2 separate regions of the Homo sapiens genome follow, and region 1 is linked to region 2. Evidence: fine-mapped expression QTL. Tissue or cell type: whole blood. Region 2 holds a variant in brackets; the other region holds the start of a gene. All regions are shown on one strand. Distances are between the middles of the regions.

Region 1 (11,151 bases), 43 kb after region 2:
TTCCTATATATAATGGGAACATATATTCAAGAAAAGTATTACAAATGGACTGAAATGATTCACACCAATTCATGATAGAAGGTTGCACTTGCAGAGGGTTGGTGTATTAGTCCATTCTCACACTGCTACAAAGATACTACCTGAGACTGGGTAATTTATAAACAAAGTAAGTTTAATTGACTCACAGTTTCACATAGCTGGGGAGGCCTCAGGAAACTTATAATCATGGCAGAAGAAGCAGGCATCTTCTTCACAAGGCGGCAGGAGAGTGTGAGTGTGTGAAGGAGGAACTGTCAAAAACTTATAAAAACATCAGATCTCCTGAGAACTCACTCACTATCATGAGAACAGCCTGGGGGAAACCGCCCACATGGTCCAATCACCTCCCACAGGGTCTCTCCGTTGACATGTGGGGATTATGGGGATTACAATTCAAGATGAGATCTGGGTGGAGACACAGCCAAACCGTATCAGTTGGTTAACTTTATAATGCTTTATTCCTCATAAATTAGGAAGGCCAAAAACAAAAGAAAATATAAAATTTGTTCAATTTGGGGGGTTGTGGGTATTGAATGGCATTAATGTATTGTTATTTTTGTACTTTTCTGTATTTGAAATTTTCTCAAAATTAAAAAATCATCTTCTAGACTGTAAGATCCTTAAGAACAGCAACTATATTTTATTAATATTTTCATTGGCAGTATCTAATACCATTACTGAAAAATAGGAGTCCTCAATAAATACTCGCTAAATATGTATGTGTTAAATAAATAAAAATTTTGTTGAGAGAAAAAGAAGAAATTAAGGGGAGAAAGATGAATGGTACGGATGTAAGAAGACAGAAACGTAAAAAGTATTTTGGGTTTACAAATGTGTGATTTAATACCCAGGCTACCTGACATTTTCAGCTGAGCTGTTATTCTAAAACAGATAGGAATTTTGAATGCGAAGATAAGGAGTGAAAAAAGCTCCCTTTCACCCAGCAGATATGAAGAATGTCATAGAGATCTATTGGCTTGAGATTCAGGAGCAAAAAATTGGAATTCTTGAAATCATAAGTTATTTTGTAGTTTTCATAACACTTTACATGTTTTAAAAACATAATGAGTAACCATAACAATAAACTGAATCTTTTCTGTGCTAGGATTATACTAAAAGTTTCAGAGGTTTATTTTGGTTTAAAAAAGATAATAAAAGCATGATTATTATTATCAGCCAACATACTGAAGAACAGTATATATTTGATTATATATGATAATGATCACTACCTGTCATAGATATTTCATAGTAAAAATCATTAAAGGAAGGAAGCATCAATGCAAAATAAATTCTAAATAAAAAATTCTAAATTTTAATTAAAAAATAATTCTTCAAGTGACAATTTAAAACACATAAAACAATTTCCTTATCTGATAGATTTCATCTTTGCTTTGTGACAGATATTCCAGATGAGAGAAAATTTCTCTCATTTTGCACTTCATGTCAGTTCACTTGTTAAACGTGCTTCCAAAGTATTATCAGATTGGACGTTGGGGTATCTGTTGCTTTATATAAGCTCGTTTACTTTTTTAACAAAAAAAATATTTTGTTTTACAAAGAACTAAACCCTTCAGTGAATATTCAAACTATGGAAAATGCAGAAAACAAGATTGGGTATTCAAATACAGTTATGCATAGCTTAATGATGGGGATATGTCGTAACAAGTGCATTGTTAGGTAATTTTGTCGTTGTATGAACATCATAGAGTGTACTTACACAAACGTAGATGGGATAGCTTTCTATACACCGAGGCTATATAGCGTAGCCTATTATTCCCAGGCTACAAACCTGTACAGCATGCTACCTTACTGAATACTGTAGGCATCTGGAACACAGTGTTTAGTATTTGTGTATGTAAACATATCTAAATATAGAAAAGGTACAGTCAAAATATGATATAAAAGATTAAAAATGGGGGCCGGGCGCGGTGGCTCACGCCTGTAATCCCAGCACTTTGGGAGGCTGAGACGGGTGGATCACAAGGTCAGGAGATCAAGACCATCCTGGCTAACACGGTGAAACCCCGTCTCTACTAAAAATACAAAAAATTAGCCAGGCGTGGTGGCAGGTGGCTGTAATCCCAGCTACTTGGGAGGCTGAGGCAGGAGAATGGCGTGAACCTGGGAGGCGGAGCTTGCAGAGCTGAGATCGTGCCACTGCACTCCAGCGTGGGCAACAGAGCGAGACTCTGTCTCAAAAAAAAAAAAAAAAAGATTAAAAATGGTACACCTGTATAGGAGACTTACCATGAATGAAGCTTGCAGGAGTGGAAGTTGCTCTGGGTGAGTCAGTAGGTAAGCAGTGAGTGAACGTGAAGGCCTAGGTCATTACTGTACACTACCATAAATTATAAACATGTACACTTAGACTACACTAAATTTATTTTAAACATTTTTCTTCCTTTAATAATAAATTAATGTTAGCTTACTGTAAGTTTTTTACTTTATAAACTTTTTATTTTTGAGACAGGGTCTTGCTCTGTCGCCCAGGCTAGAGTGCAGTGGCACAATCATGGCTCACTGCAGCCTCGACCTCCTGGACACAGTGATTCTCCCACCTCAGCCTCCAGAGTAGCTGGGACTACAGGCACATGCCATCATCCTTGGATATTTTTAAAAATTTTTGTAGAGATGGGGTCTCCCAATGTTGCTCAGGCTGGTCTCGATCTCCTGGACTCAAGCAGGCCTCCCACCTTGGCCTCTCAAGTGCTGGGATAAACAGGGATAAGCCACCTCTCCTGGCCTAAAATTTTAAATTATTTATTCATTTATTTATTTTTCATTGCACAATGGAAATGGTATGAACTTTTATTTATTTTATTTTTATTTTATTTTTGTTTGAGACGGAGTCTCCCTCTGTCACCCAGGTTGGAGTACAGTGGTGCAATCTTGGCTCACTGCAACCTCCGCCTCCTGGGTTCAAGTGATTCTCCTGCCTCAGCCTCCAGAGTAGCTGGAACTACAGGCACCCACCACCAAGCCCGGCTAATTTTTGTATTTTTAGTAGAGACAGGGTTTCGCCATATTGGCCAGGCTGGTCTTGAACTCCTGACCTTGTGATCCACCCACCTTGGCCTCCCAAAGTGCTGGGATTACAGGCGTGAGCCACCGTGCCTGGCCAAACTTTTAAAATGAGTAAACTTTCTTTTGTAATAACACAGCTTAAAACACAAACATATTGTACAGCTATACAAAAATATTTTATTTATATCCTTATTCTACAAGCTTCTTTCTATTTTTCAATGTTTTAAAACTTTTTTTTGTTAAAAACTAAGACAAAAACACAGACATTAGCATAGGCTTACACAAGGTCAGGATTAACAATATCACTGTCTTCTACCTCCACATCTTATCTCACTGGAAGATGTCCAGGGGTAATAACAGGCATGGAAGTGTCATCTCCTATGATAACACAATCTTCTTCTGGAAATCATCCTGAGGCTATTTGACAGCTGGCTTTTTTTTTTCAAGCAGAAGTATACTCTAAAATAATGATAATAGTATAGTAAATATGTAAGCCAATCACATGGTTGCTTATTATCATTGTCAAGTATTATGTACTGCACATAACTGTATGTTCTACACTTTTATAGACTGGCAGTGCAGTAGTAGTTTATTTACACCAGCATCCCCACAAATAGGTGGATAACGCATTGCTCTACAACGTTATTGCGGTGACATTATTACATCACTAGGTGATAGGAGTTTTTCAACTCTGTTATAATCTTATGAGAAGTGTTGTATACGTAGTCAGTCGTCCACCAAAATGTGTTATAATAGTAAGATACCATTTGGATATTCTAGCAACAACAAAAGCATTACATAGAAACATATGTTGAGGCCAGGTGGGGTGGCTCATGCCTATAATCCCAGCACTTCGGGAGGCCGACGTGGGTGGATCACCTAAGGTCAGGAGTTCAAGACCAGCCTGGCCAACATGGTGAAACTGCATCTCTACTAAAAATACAAAAATTAGGTGGGCATGGTGGCATGTGCCTGTAATCCCAGCTACTCGGGAGGCTGAGGCAGGAGAATCACTTGAGCCCGGGACGCAGAGGTTGCAGTGAGCTGAGATCGAGCAACTGTACTCCAGCCTGGGCAATAGAGCTAGACCCTGTTTCAAAAAACAAAAACAAAAACAAATGTATTCTATGACTATAAATGTATTGATGTTTATTTACAAGAATGACTCACTGACAAGTCCAGAAACACAAACTTATAACATTGTAAAAGTTAAAAGCAAGATTGACTGATAAGATCTTTACCGCTTCTCTTTTATGCACTCCTCTCTTGCTTTCCAGGAATGTTTATGTAAACCTTTGATGTCAGCGTTTCCTGTCTTTCTTTTGATTTGGTTTCAATATATTCCTTTAAGCCAGTAACATCATTATGTTGATTGTTAAGGTTTAATATTCCCCTTTACATTGTTTTAACATCTTTGTCAGAAATCAATTGACCATATATGTGTGAATCTATTTCTGGATTCTATTTTGTTCCATTGCCTATGTGTAGTCTATATGTCTGTCTTCACCAGTACCAAGTTGTTTAGCTTAAATAGCTTTATAGATATAGGTAGGATAAATCCTCCAGTTTTATCTTTCTTTTAAAAAATTGCTTTGGTTATTCTGGATTCTTTGCATTTGCTTCCATAGGAATTTTAGAATCAGGTTGTCAATTTCTACAAAACAGTTTGCTAGAATTTTCATTGAGATTGGGTTGAATCTATAAATGAACTTGGTGAAAACTGACATCTTAATAATACTGAGTCTTGTAATTTATGAACATGGTTGATATTTTCATTAAGTTTTCCAAATAAAAGGGGGAATCAGCATTTATAAGCACATCACATATGCCTCATATAGTAATGGGTGCTTTACATGTATCATATTAATTAAAAATCACCATTCCTTTTATTAGCTAGATTGTGTTAGGGACAAGCTACCCCAAAAAAGCTTCTTGGTACTGCCAACACCCCCGCCCCCCACCCCCGCAAACCTCTCCGTACCACCCCTCCTCTTCCCCCAAACCTTTTTACATTTCTAAGCCCCTATCTAGGCACCGCGGTGAAGCCAGGAGACTTTTACCTATCAGGTCTTGCTGCTATAAAGCAAACCCAATTACAAACCATCCGGACTGCACAGTGGGAGGTCGTGGGAAGTATAAACAAACTTTACCTACACCCTCCGGTACCATAAACGTCACAAGGTGATATGTGGCAGAGTTAACCAACAAACAACTCCAGGGTCTCTCTCCCCCACATAAAACCCTCATTTTGTAAGCTCAGGGCTGCCTCCTCTGTCTGTAATGGAGCAGCCGGCAGGTTGAATAAAGGCTTGCCTGAACTTGGGTCTCGGTCTCTCTCGGTCTCTCTCTCCCTCTCTCTCTCTCTCTCTCGTCCTTTCTCTCGGCTAACTTCACAGATTGCACATAAAAAAGAAAAGGGGTTCAGAGAAGGTAAGTAACTCCCTAGAGACCAATAAGTGGCACAGAAGGGAATTTGGGCCCTCATCTGTCTGACTCCAAAACCTGGCTTTATCTATTCACCGGTCCTTATAACTCAGCTAAAACGAGGGTTAAGCAAGTGCCATCATTTATGACTGTGAACCTCTTCAAAGTTCAGATTGTTCCTGAACAATCAAGCATTTCAAACTCTTACCATCAAGTAAGGAGATAGCGTTACATCGTGTGTAGGCATATGGGGATTAAAGATTACATTATATTTTCCAAATTGCACTTGAGAATTGACTGTGCCAATTATATCCTTTCTGGGTATCTACCTTGTTCACAGTATGTGGGATCCAGGTTGAGGAACAGCATAAAATTCTTGTACCCTGTTGCAAAAATTTATTAGTAATCCATGCATACTGGTTTAGGATTTGAAAACAGGTTTTATAAAAGGTTTGCTAGGTATCGATCTAATTTCAGGAATACCCTAGTAGGGAAATTCAGTGACCTTTACAAATTTACCCGTGGCCAAAAAAAAAAAATAAGTAAAAATTAAAAATCAGAACACATCCAAAGTAATTATAATTAAAATTAACCAAAGTTCCTGATCCAATCCTGATAAGGGGTATTAGGTTTAATATTTACAGATAATTTATGAAGAAAAAGATTACGGTTCAAAGTCTACTTCAGGTATTTCTATTTACATTTCTTGGAAAAGTTTCCCAGGGCTCTTTCTGCCCCAGCCGCCAATCTACAGAAGAGTCTAGTCGACTGTCCACTCATTTCACAGCACTTGTCTGAAACTAGAAGACCCAGGGAGGGAACAAGGTTCAGGCTTGAAACGCTAAGACATTCAAGATTTCACCTTGTATGCAAAAATCAGAATGGGAGGCTGCAGCGGGGCCTCACACTCACCGGAGCTAGGCGCTATAGATCCCGCACCCGCGGAGCCCGGCAACCACCTGAGGGGCCTTGGCCAGGAGGGGGTGGCCCCCCGGCGCCGGCGGCAGCTCCGGAGCAAACCTGGCAAACCCGAGCAGGGCGGTGCGGGTTGCTCAGGGAGAAAATGAAGGGAGTGATAGGGTGGGGGTGGCAGGGAACGGGCACAACGCCGGCTTCCTCCGGACGGCCTCCTGCGTCCCACCTGTGCTCCTGAAAAGCGGCCCCCGACAGGGCGCGGCGGGAACCCGAGCCGGGAGTAGGGTCACGAGTTAAAGCGGCGGGGGCGGGAGGATGCGCGGGCGGCGGACGGGGCGCTCTCCTCCCGTCTGACTCTGGGCGGAGCGGGGCTCGAGGCTGCTGGAGTCGCTCGCTGACTCGCCCTGCGCCCTCGCCGCGGACACCGGAGCTGCGGCCGCTCCCCGCTGTCCCCCAGGTGAGCCCGCGGGGCGCTGCCCCGGGGCGTCGGGTGTCGCGGGAACGGCGCCCGCGGCGCACAGGGAGGGCCGGGGAGGCCGGGAGGCAGCGAGCTGTCGGGGACGCCGCGGGAAGGCCGGGCCGGGCAGTCGGCGCCATGGAGGGCAGGCGGGCTGGAGCTGGGCGCGAGATGCAGCTGTTCCGCGCCGCCCCCAAGCCGCCCGCAGGTCAGTGGAGGAGCGCGCCTGCCGGGCCTGCCCGGGGCTGGGCGGGTGGGGGTGCTCTGCTCCTCGGTCCCCCTCCAGGCCGCCGCCCACCTGTGGCCAGGGCTCAGAGGGCTGGAAGCCACCCCCGCCCGGAGCCCCTGGGCTGGAAGGCTTGGATGCCGGCCGGGGCTCCAGATGGCCTTGACGCGGCTCGGCTGGCCCCTTTCAAGGCGGACTGTCCCCCTGTTAGAGGTGGGGGCGGCTGGAAGTGGGGGCTCAGGCCCGGGTCGCTGCGCTGGCTGAAAGCAGCCGCCAGCCGGGCTGCGGCCGTCTGAGCTCCACGGCAGTGCCCGGGGATGGCAGCGACCGCTCTGGGACATCGCTGCAACCCTGCAGATCTTTCTCGCACACACTACCCAACAAAAGTGTCAACCCTTGTTGTTTGTTTGTTTGAAAAAAAAAGAAGACTGGAGAGACTAAAGTTTTGTGTCTGGTGAAGTGGGAAAGCGCTTCTGAAAAAACGAGGTTGCATAACTTTGTCGCCAACTGGGAGGCCTTTGCTATTTATACACTCCCGGGCTTTCTCCAATTTTCTACAGCTTACTCCAATCAAGCCTCTGCCCGCCAGGAACAGGTAACCTGTGTGTGTCCGTTTGCTCCTTCTAAGAGCATGCCTGATAGATACTTCGGTAGCCTCTCCGGATGGCCCCTTCGTCGGGTAGCCTCTCCTGATGGGGTCCTTCGCCCACCCTGCCTCCCGCGCCGGCGCTCCGGGTGAATGTCAAGGGTGGCTGGCTGCGAATACCTCCTTCAGCTGCTGGGGTTCCCGACAGTTTGCAGTTTTTAAAAGTGCACCCTCGGAAGGGCTTTTCAGACTGGGTAAACCTGACTTTTCCAAGGTCAGCATCTGGTCCTGGTGAATGAAATGTCTACCGGGACAACTCGTTGTGATGTGCTGAATATATGCTGGTTGGCTTGTTTTCTCTTTGTTCCTGTGGATTACTGTACATGGTGTGTGGCTAGTTTGTTTAAAATTTAATTTTCCCTGTATCAAAGTGGAAAGCGCTTAGTGTCAATATACAACTCACCAACATGCTTATTAACAGCTTCATCATTATGTTGGTGTTCATATGCGAGCTTTGGTCAACATGAAATCATCTGCGTTTTAAGTCCTATAGATAAAGTCTCCTTAAATGCTGGTTAAAATATCCTGCCTTTTTGAAGGAAGTAAAACTGTTAAGTGAAAATCCTAATTTATTAATAACTTTTTCTTTCCTTTATGCCTTTACCTAAGAATTACTGCATTTATGCTTTGACAGGCATTTTAACACGCACACAGGAGCCACACTTTAATGAGTTATATAATAATTATTTCATTTTGAAGGTACTGCATTTGCCATACAGTAAATATGTTTTATGGTTTATTCATCCAGCAGTATCCTTATTAATCTTTTCATTAACAAGAGTTTAAGAACCTTCCCCATGCTATTCTTTATAGCCAGTATCTATTGTTCGGAGATGTTGGGCTTCCTAAGAATGCTTGAATTGGAATCAAAAGTGGGGTTCTAGACTTGGAAAGCAGCATGGTATCTAACCAGTGACTTGTAAGATATTGTATGAATGCAGGTTACAATTTTCCTTCTTCATTGCTGAGTACAAGTTATTATTAAAATGTCAAATAAAGCCTGCCTTTCTATTCCGTATGGAAGGACGCTACTCATTGTTTGGGGTATTTTACTTTGAACAGGTTTCCATAGTATAATATCAATCTTAGTCTGAGGGAAAATCCAAGATCCATCCCAGTCTCTAGAGTGACTTCTCCGTCACTTTGAAAAAACTGATTCTGAAGACAATAAAACCAGCCCGACCCAACCCTTTTCAAACGTACCTGCCCCCCCCCCCAAATAGATATGAAGTACTTTGAAAATATGCTATAAATATAAGGCCTTCAATAAAAAGTCATTACAAGCGATGCCACAGACTGGGAATTAGGCTTAAATTGAGGGCCCATTTTCCCCTTTGTACAACAGTTATGTTTCCTGAGGCTCATACTGCCCCTTAAGAACCTTACTGGCTTTCTAGGAAGCCACCCTGTCTGCTGTGGGTGTTAGGTAGGTGAGTCTGCTTAGCGCTAGACCCTATGCAAAGGCTTTGTTTACTGTTTTATTTAATGCTCTCTACACTCATAACTATTTAATTCTGGCTACAATCATAGAAGGGTAGGTGTAGTTATTCCCATTTTGCTGGAGAGGAAACTGAGGCTCAGAAGGGCTAAGTGATTTCCCTGAGATTGCAGAAACGTCAAGTCATGGAACCAGGATTAGAAACCAAACTGAATCTTGTTCTTTACACTACACCCTGCTATCTTTAACTCGGTGGTTTTAAACATTTTTTGATAATCTGTGAAAGTTTTAGTTACCTCCCAGGAAAAAGTGTCCACAGCCACATATATGAAAGTTTTCATATAACTTCAAGGCCCACCTACCCTCTGAAGTCCTTCCCCCAGGTCCTCAGGTCTCTGATCCTCTAACTATACTGAGTGAGGCAGAAAACATATACATCCTATATATATGTACATATAATCTTTTACTAATGGGAGCAGCCCTTGAATTTGGTAACTTTGAACTAGGTGAAAATTCACTTTGTAATTAAAACAAATAAAAAAGTGACGTCCTACATTGGAACTGATTCTGTAAACATCTAAAATGCAGTTTAGAGCAATGGTGCTTATTTGAAACCAGGACTTCTGTATGGGCTTCTCCTTGCAATATTAAAGAATATGGACTTGTGTCTTTACTCACTAAATGGAAATGTTGGTTGTTGTTGTTGTTGTTTTTTTCCTCTAGAGATGGCAGATCCTGAGGTAGTTGTGAGTAGCTGCAGCTCTCATGAAGAGGAAAATCGCTGCAATTTTAACCAGCAAACATCTCCATCTGAGGAGCTTCTATTAGAAGACCAGATGAGGCGAAAACTCAAATTTTTTTTCATGAATCCCTGTGAGAAGTTCTGGGCTCGAGGTAGAAAACCATGGAAACTTGCCATACAAATTCTAAAAATTGCAATGGTGACTATCCAGGTAAGCATCTCAGATCATGAGTTTGGTGAAAGCCTCTTTTAATTACAAAGATAACTATGGACAGTGGTTTTTTTTTTAAATAACTTTTAACTATATGCAAAATGTTGAAGAGTAACAGATAAGAAAACATACAATCTTAGACCCTTCTGTCTTCAACATTTGTGAAAGAGTTTGTCTTCTTTTTTCTTAGTTTTTTTCTTGTATCGTTCGCTAAGTTATAATTTTAGTCACATAATCTAATTAATTTTCAGGAAAAGAAAACTAATATTTGGCTTCCAATGAAGAGGTTCAGCTGGTTTCTAAATAAGCCATGGAAACTAGTGTTGTCCAACATTAGGACTTTCTTTTCCTTCCTAGTTAGTTTCCTGGGAATTTCTCTCTTCAGAAACTTAAAGGGTTCCTGCTACAGGCAAATTCTTAGATTCTCACAACCCTGTGATCATGAGAACCATGCAATGGAAGAATGTGAAGTTAACTAACAGAAGAGGAGTGGCAGGAGCTAGTGAAACACAGGACCTCTTTTTAGTTCAAAGGGAGCTTTTAAATCACATTTCCTTGGCTGCTTTTAATATTTTTTTGGGGGAAAGGGGGAACCATATTTTGTGATTCTTAATATATACTGGTTGTGATTTATTCTTATGAAAATATGTTTTCCTGTTGGTCAAATTATCTCTTGCTAAAAGCAAAGGGCAAAATAGAAGCAGATTTTAGTGAGAAAAATAGATGTGATAGGTTTATTTTTATTATTACTTACTCTTCCTAAGTTGGTGAAAAATGCCTAAGTAAATAAACAATTGGTATTGAAGGAGAGATTAAAAAAAACAGGATATTACTAATTTTAACTGCTTATTGAGAACAAACACTTATGATTGTTAGGGAACCAAGGCAATTTTTACAATCATATGAAGTTGGTAGAATTCTTGCTTGTTTCTAATGCTAGGTGTTGTATCAAGGGAAACAAACATTTAGTGACTACCCTGTTCCAGTACATTATTTCATTTAATTCTAACATTCTTACTGGCTCATTTT
Region 2 (8,000 bases):
ACAAAAATCATATACCCTTTTGATGGTCAAACCCACTGAATCACAATGAATTTAAACCTTGACCATAAAACAGCTTTATGATTGTTTTGCTTCACTAGAGAAACAGGATATTGGAGGATAGGATCTAAATTTGATATTAGATAACTTAAAAAGAAGATAAAAGCAAACGGTATTGAGATACATATATATATATATAATCTTTATATATAATCTTTATATATAATCTTTATATATATATATAATCTATCTATATATATATATACACACATATATCTGCCTATAAATTCAGTGATGTGTGTATGCTTTCTAGTGAATTTCTGTTTAAGTTCTGGATCATCCCCTAACTCCTACTCCCAAGGAAATTTCAGAAGAGGCCTTTTTTTCCAAGAGGTAGTAATGCTTGTAGCTTTTGTTCTTCCATGGAATCTTATACAATATGTGGTTCAGTCCCAGCAACACAAATAGATTTCACCCAATTCTGTTTCAGTTTTGAAGCTGGGTTACCCCGTGAACACCTCAGGAGCTGATACCGTGTGTAACACGTCTCTATACCCTGCTTCCTGGTGTGGTGTCTGGCACACAATTGGCATGCCTTCCTTCTGCTGAATTGAATCCTTAAGTCCAAGGAACTGCCAAGTCAAAACTTATTACCAAAGGTTGTCTACATTAATACATAGCTGAAAAAAATTCTGTTAAGTACCTGCCCATTGATACAGCCTCCAGCAATGATATTAGGATCACTCGGACAGAACTTGAAGCAGAAGATGTCATCTGGGCTCTCCAGCATTAACTAAAGTAAACCCAGCAAATTCATGAAAGAATGAGAAAAGAGATTAAGATCATGGCGAGAAAATAATATTAAGACAGTTAAAAGTCTAATTTTATAGCTATCTATAAGCAAGGTGCGTAGAGAGTCTATTCTCAGAGTTCTGCCTCTGGACTAAAAGCTGCTTTTGCTTAATTTTATTGTGCACATTGGCCATACGAGTGACAGTGAGTATGTTCTCAAGGGGACCCAGGTATTCCCCAACCCACCCCTCAGTGGAAACAAATTGTAGTTATTTTGGGAGCATGTTACAATGTTTATAACAAAAAGACTATGAAATTAGTGTTCCTGAAAACCATGGAAGGGAAGCTCTGTGAGGACAGGATCTGTGTCTGTTTTGTTGCTTGCTGAATACTGAGCCAGGCACTCCTGGAGTGGAGAGGAGATCTACAGGGTAGAAAGGTTAGAAAACTCTAGTGAGAGAGTGGCTCTGTTTTTGTGGCTGACAAGAAAGGGCTAGAGATCTTTCAATTTGATCTCTGGGTCTATAATCATTAAAGTATCTAGAATCTATTACAGTAAAACTACCTTAATTCAAATGAATTGGGGAAAGGAAGAAGGGGAGGCTAGGGTTTTTTAGGGAAAGTCTTAATTATGAATACTTTTTAGAAACAAAATATTATTATATTTAAAACATTGAAATAACTTAATCTAACACTATACACCACCCACCCACTAGGCAGATCTCTTATTGAGCAGACCATGAAAACTAGAACCCTGTGTAGCAAACCCAGCCTTCAGCCTCATTTTATTTGAATTGCTATGTGTTTTGGTTGGTTTGAGTGGGGTTTTTGTGTGTTTTGGCTTGGTTTTAGTTGAGCTATTTAAAATTGGGCGATTTCATACAAAATTCCAAATTTCTCAATTCTCTTGACAATGGGACCACCTGGCAACAAGAGGGCAGCCAGCCTAGAGATGGATAATGCACTCTCCAAGGCCGCAGTCCCTACCACTCCCCAGTGCTCTCCCACACATTCACCTTTATTTATTACCCAGTGATCCTTGGAATTGAGGAAACTCATGTGAAACTAAAATCTATTTGCATTTGACCAATTAGTATTCAAGTAAAGTCCATAAAAGAGTTTGTTTTAAAAATAGTTTAAACATTCCTCTTACAATCTTTGAAAAAAATAGCATGTTGATTTGTTCAATAAACAAATTGTAAACTTTAGTTTTGCTCAAATTGAATGATGACAAGTTCTGCATTGAAGAAAGCCTAACTTTATAAATGTTTACAACATTACATGATTATAAAGTACTTTGCAATAAAAACTGCTAAAGGTATACATGAAAGTAGTATTTGAAAATTTAGGCTATGTAGGCAACTCTCCCTAATTACCTGAGGATGTATAGGATCAGAGAAGCTCCAGAAAAGAATCAGTGATGGCTGCAGCAATAATTTACCAGAAAAGTGAACTCTGTCTTCAAAAGAAAGTCGCACGGCTACCGACACAGCTATTAGCCCTGATGGAAACACATGTAGAAATTAAAGTTGGCAGCAACTATACATGGAGAGATGTCTCTAGCTTTTGCTTTTCTACACAGCCACTCTTCATTTACACTTTGTCCACAGGAGAGCAAGAGTTTTCTTAGAGCTCTGCTGGCTAATGTGGTTGCCACTAGTTACATGCTACTTATTTAGCACTTGAAATCTGGCTGGTCCAAACTGACATGTACTGTTAGTATAAAATATACAGGGGACTCAGAAGATTTTGGAAGAAAAGAAAATCTTGTTTTGTTTCTTTTTTGTGAGAAAAGGGCCAGTGTAGGGTGAAAGGAGGAAGAAAGAGGACAAATACCTCTCTCTTTCCATGTTTCCATCTTTGCACATCCCTACCTACCTCCCTTGGCTGCTGAGCTCTTTAAAGGAGGCACATTTCCTCTCTTGTCTAGTAATCAGAAAGGCAGTGTTAGGAGGAAGAAATTTAGCCTTGGGAGAGCAACAGGCCCAAGCCCAACCCAGACTCTGCCTTATGCCATCTGGGTGACCTGGGCGAGTCACTTCCCTGAGTTGAGCTTGGGTCCTTTTGTTGTGAAACAGAGATAATGACAGGTGTGTATCCTACAGGGTTGTTGGGAGGACACATGACAGTGAGGGCGTGGAAAGCACATGGCAGGTACCTAGTGAGTACAGAGCAAATGGAAGGTGTCTTATTGACATTGAACTAGTTTGCAATTTTACATATGAAAGCAACAGACAATTTCAATGTTATCACAAAAGGGAATCCCCATCATTTCCATCTCACCATAGATAGTTGGATGCCATGAGACACAGGTAATCATTTTCTCCGTTGGGCTATGAAGGTCGGTAAAGGACTGGTACTCTTTCAGGTGGGTATCGGTCTTGTCCCCAAAGGTGCCTTCTTCTTCTGCGAGGTATTTCCAGTCATCAATAAATGTGTTCATGATTTCATTTTGCTGCAGGGCTATTTCAACACTAATTTGTAAAAATAAAAAAAGCAATTAAGATATTGGTTTTTAGTATCCAATAATGTGACTATCTTAGCAACTCCTCCTCCTTCATTTATACTGAACAAAAAATAATAATTCTCAATTATATTTGGTGATAATGATTAACCTCATGTGAAATAAATGACTTAAGAGAAAAAAACATCATGGTGGCATGTTACTCAGAACCTCGAGCAACTTCATGATCTGCCTCAGTTTCCAAGCCAAGGCTGTACTCTCTCCAGGCCAATGCCTGAGCATGCAGCTGCAGGGATGGCTGGGCCTGGCCAGTCCTCCTTGTGCAGCACTCCCACAGCAGGCATCTTTGCTCTGGAGCTCCTGCTGAGTAGGCTGAGAATTTGTCTGATGCTCTACCTTCCCGGTCCTGTCTCCTCCTCCTTTATTTTTCACAGTGTAATCCTCAGTAAACGTCTGCCTCTAACTTGATGTCATTTGCTTCCTGGAAAGCCCCAACTGTCACAAATGGCAGTTTTCTTAGGCATATTCTGTACTAAATGATCACTTATCCTTAACAGGATAGCCCCAATACATATGTAATTCAAAACAACAAATAAGAGATTCTGAACAAGGGAAGAATTGGAGTTTAGAAGTGTGTGTGTGTGTGTGTGTGTGTGTGTGTGTGTGTGTGTGTAGTTTTAGTTGTCACAATGCCTGGGAGGTGCTACTGTGTTTAATTCCATTACCAAACCTCCTGCAATGCATGAGACAGTCCCCAAAATGAAAAATTATCCTGCTAAAAATACTAACATTGCTCCTTTAAGATACCATCTGAGTGCTAGGATCATTTGCTAATAGTCTAGGGACCTTGGTTTGACAGGCTCCTGTCTTAAAGTAGTTACTATGATAGTTATTGTCCCTTTTTATGCTTAGATCTGAAAGCTCTGCATACTCCCAAAGTTGCTAAGAGCCCTCCCACAATTAGAATGCCACCCAAGGTTTTACCCTACTGATCAAAACTGTAAACTTCTTGGTTTTATATAGGTGTGGTAAGTTGAAAAAGTGGTTCTCAATTGTGAATTTCTTAAAATAAGAAAAAATCCTTTAGATAGTTCAATATAAACAGTAAAAACAGATACTCCTAAAATATAAAAAAGGGCACCGTTTGATACCCCTGTCATTGATCATTACACTACCAGTCATTGCCTAATTGAGTCCTCCCTTGGTTAAATTCTTCTTGTATTTCATCTTTCAAAATAGACCCCTTTCCTAAGACCTGGCCACTTAAAGTGTGATCCAGTGACCACCAACATGACCTGGGGCTGTTAGAAATGCAGAGTCGCAGGCTCCACCCGACTTACTGAGTCAGAACCTGCATTTTAACAAGAGTCCTCAGGTGATTCATAAGCACACTGAACATTGAATAACCCTGTGTAGCGGACTCTCGAGGCTTAAACAGTTTCCAGTAGAAGCATTAGTAAGCATTTTCCAAATCATATTTCTTTCTGGTTAAGCCCAAATGAGAAGGGAATTCTCAAGAGAAAAGTTAAAGACGTGGCTT[C/T]CGCTCTGGTTTCCTGATTCTACCTCCTTAGCCAGAACGGGGAAGTAATTCAAACGGAAGAAGTGAAAACACATCTTTCTTCTGGTTTCCGGTTTCTTGCTTTCCTGGAACCATGTAGCTCCCGAGAGTAACAAATTGGAGGCTAGCAAAACTGTTGTCTAGGAATTTTAACCCCGAAAGGAAGGTTTCTTAGTTGTTTTGTGAATCCCCCTGAAGTTCCTCTCTCTCATCTCATGTCATTGCCTTCTTTTGCAAATAATGCTTCCCTTAAGTTTGTTTTAGATAAAATTCTATGAGAAAGAAATTTCCCATTTCTAAAAGGGCTTTCTTCCAGAACAAAATCAGGCTTACCTTAATTAAAAACTATTGAATAAAGCTTAAGCAGTTTTAAAGCTGGAAGTTATGTTTGCAGTGATATAAACATGGGTTTCTTATCCACTCTGGGCCAGTGCTATTATAATTCCTGTGCCAATTTTCCTCTTTCTTCTTATAGATCTGGCTTCTCCTTCCCACATCTCAGGGATGGAATCATAAAGCTGTCCACTATTCTTTTCTTTATAAGCATGGAAATTCAGAGGGAAGAATAAAAGCCCAGGTCTAAAGATAATATACAATGTGGATTTATTTTGAACATTTTTTTATTCCCTCAAGATCTAGTTTTCTCTGGATATTGATTATATGTAAACAAACTTCTCATTTTGAATATTCTTACAGGAAAAATTGTAATGACTACTAAATTTTGATAAGGGGAGGGTGAAACTCAGGTTTTCTTGTTTCTATCTCATTGCCCGTATAGCAAAAATTATAGCATCCTTCCTGCGAGTGGCAAATAATGTTCTCTCTGAATCATTAACTGAATTTTTGAGCCAGAGTCTCCCTAGGCATAAGTAACAAGTTTGAGAGTTGTTGGAATTTTTAGGATATTTAATCCAGTATGAAAGAACCAACGACATTTCTTAAAAATAAAAAAGTTTAACTTGGGCTATATATGAACTTGACCACCAAGTTTTTAATTTTAGAAAGAAATAGAAACCAGCCTATTGAGTATAACTGGCAGACTTGTCCTCCAGTGGATCCACTTCTCTAAACTCTAGTATCAGCTTGGTGAGAACTTGTCAAGCTGTTTCTCTGGTTTAGAAGCCCCAGAACTCTACCCAGGGTCCTACTAACAGCTTAGGGGGCATTTTGAAGATGCTTCTCTTTCAAAGCCAGTAAGAGTGCAGGAACACAGGAATTGGTGATAAGAGTGAAATGTCCAAAAAGACATTTGAATTAAATTCAGGTTCTCATCTACAAAGATATTTTTGCAAATACTTATCATCATAATAATGGCCACAGCATTCTCCTCATCCTATAAAAAGTTAATGAGGAAGAGGAGTGAGGAGTGGAGAAAAAGAATTACGTAAAAGTAACCATGGTAAATACAAGTAAATGTTAATCTGCAATTAGGAAAACATCCTCACACACTCAACTCCTCACACAGTTTGATGTGGCCTTAGCTTGATAGGGCTAAGATGTTGCTTAGCAATAGAAAGGAAATAAATATTGAGAATCTGTAGAATGTGTCACACTGACAACTGTCTTCATACTTTTTATCTAGATACCCTATATGGAATTGTTTATTTAGACCTGTTATTCTATGTAAACATATACATTTTATGTTTTATTTTTAAAATTTAATATGCAATTTTTTACCTTATGGATGCATTGTTAAGAAAATCAACCAAAGGCTTTGATTGTTTGAGTGTCTCTTTTTCCTCTTCTGAGAATTCTCTTGGATAATATTGCGTAGTAGCATTTTTAGGATATGTCCTAATATATTAAAAGAAAATTCAATACTAAAGATTAGGTCAAAGAAGAGCAAATATGGGCCACAACAGGTCAAAAGTGTGTCTCTGTGACAATGATGTTAGGATATTATTTTATATTTAAATTATATACATTGAATTTTCTTTATCCTAGACAACTGATATTGACCACTATTCAAAGGCTACATGAATTTCTCTCCAACATAATCAAAAAAATCTTATTTTTGTAAAATTTTTACCTAGAAATCATTTCAAACTTATAGAAAAGTTATAAGAAGGGTATAAGGAATTCCCACACACCCTTCACCCAGATTCGTCAATTATTAACATTTTGCCATCTTTATTGTTTTCTCTCTCTCTTCATTTCACTAAGTCAGTGTCCACCTCACCCCCTCATGGGACATTTGGCAATGTCTAGAAACATTTTTGGTTGTCACAACCTAGACATGCTACTGGTGTCTAGTGAATAGATCCCAGGGATGCTGTTAAAAACCCTACAAAGCACAAGACAGCCTTCCCTCAAAGAGAATTATCCAGCCCCAAATGTCAATTTGTTGAAGTTGAGAAACTCTGCTCTAAACATACAAAACTAGGAATAAGATACATTTCAGCAGTGATGGTGGCAGGAAGTCTTGCTCCATCTAGTATGCTCTTAGTGGCCTCTGTATGTGAACACCTCATATGGCATTGTACCTCTGGGCTTTATCAATCTCAAGTATTAGACTGGGTGAGCCCTTGATCTTGGCATGTAGAGCTTGGAAAAGTCACAGGGCACAATCATTAAGAGTGTGGATTCTGGTGATTGGCTGCCTGGCTTTGAAGCCTGGTTCTATCATTTACTAGCTATATGACCCCTGAGCCAATTATCTAACCTTCTGTGCCTGTGTTCTCATCTCTAAATGAAATTATTCAAGTAGCTAGTTCATAGTGTCATTGTAAGGATTGAATGTGTTGATACATGCAAAACTTTAAAAACAGTGCCTAGCACATTTTAAATGATCAACAAAATATTATGTAGTATTTGTGTTTGTTGAACAAATGTCAGCACAATGCAGAATGTCTCTGTGAGAGGTAATATATTAAATGGAGAGTAATCAGACAAAGGGGTAAAGGGAGTTTTTAGAATAATTCATTTTTTTTCCTTGTTTAGGTCAGTATCCATAGCAGAAGGCAGAGTGGTAGAAAGAAATAATATTAGTATTGGAACCAGAGAGACTTGGGTTCAATTCTCAGCTTCACCTTTTAATTTCTGCTCTCTAGACAGGGTTAAGTAAAAAAAAAACAAAATGATATATTGCTTGGTGGTTTTATCAAAGTAGCAACATGCCTAAGAGTCACTCTTACTTTCGAAATATGATTTGTTTTGTTGTTTTTCAGCAAAACCATTCATTATTGCTTC

Evidence for each region. PIP is the estimated chance that this variant, and not a neighbour inherited with it, causes the effect.
Region 1: it holds the start of MCOLN3, and the variant in region 2 is fine-mapped to the expression of MCOLN3 in whole blood (TOPMed, PIP above 0.99).

Annotation. Positions count from the first base shown.
Region 1 is chr1:85,044,104-85,055,254 of GRCh38, reverse strand. It overlaps MCOLN3 (mucolipin TRP cation channel 3), which reads left to right and starts at 6,755. Exons shown (of 13, transcript NM_018298.11): 1 at 6,755-6,859; 2 at 9,893-10,122. The coding sequence starts at 9,895. RefSeq lists silencers at 6,354-6,493, 6,524-7,273.
Region 2 is chr1:85,088,721-85,096,720 of GRCh38, reverse strand. It overlaps DNAI3 (dynein axonemal intermediate chain 3), which reads right to left. Exons shown (of 23, transcript NM_145172.5): 8 at 6,489-6,605; 9 at 3,073-3,263; 10 at 2,166-2,290; 11 at 701-790. Among named protein-coding and RNA genes, the nearest start is that of DNAI3, 30 kb to the right of the region's middle. The variant C/T (reference allele first, on the strand shown) is at 4,794.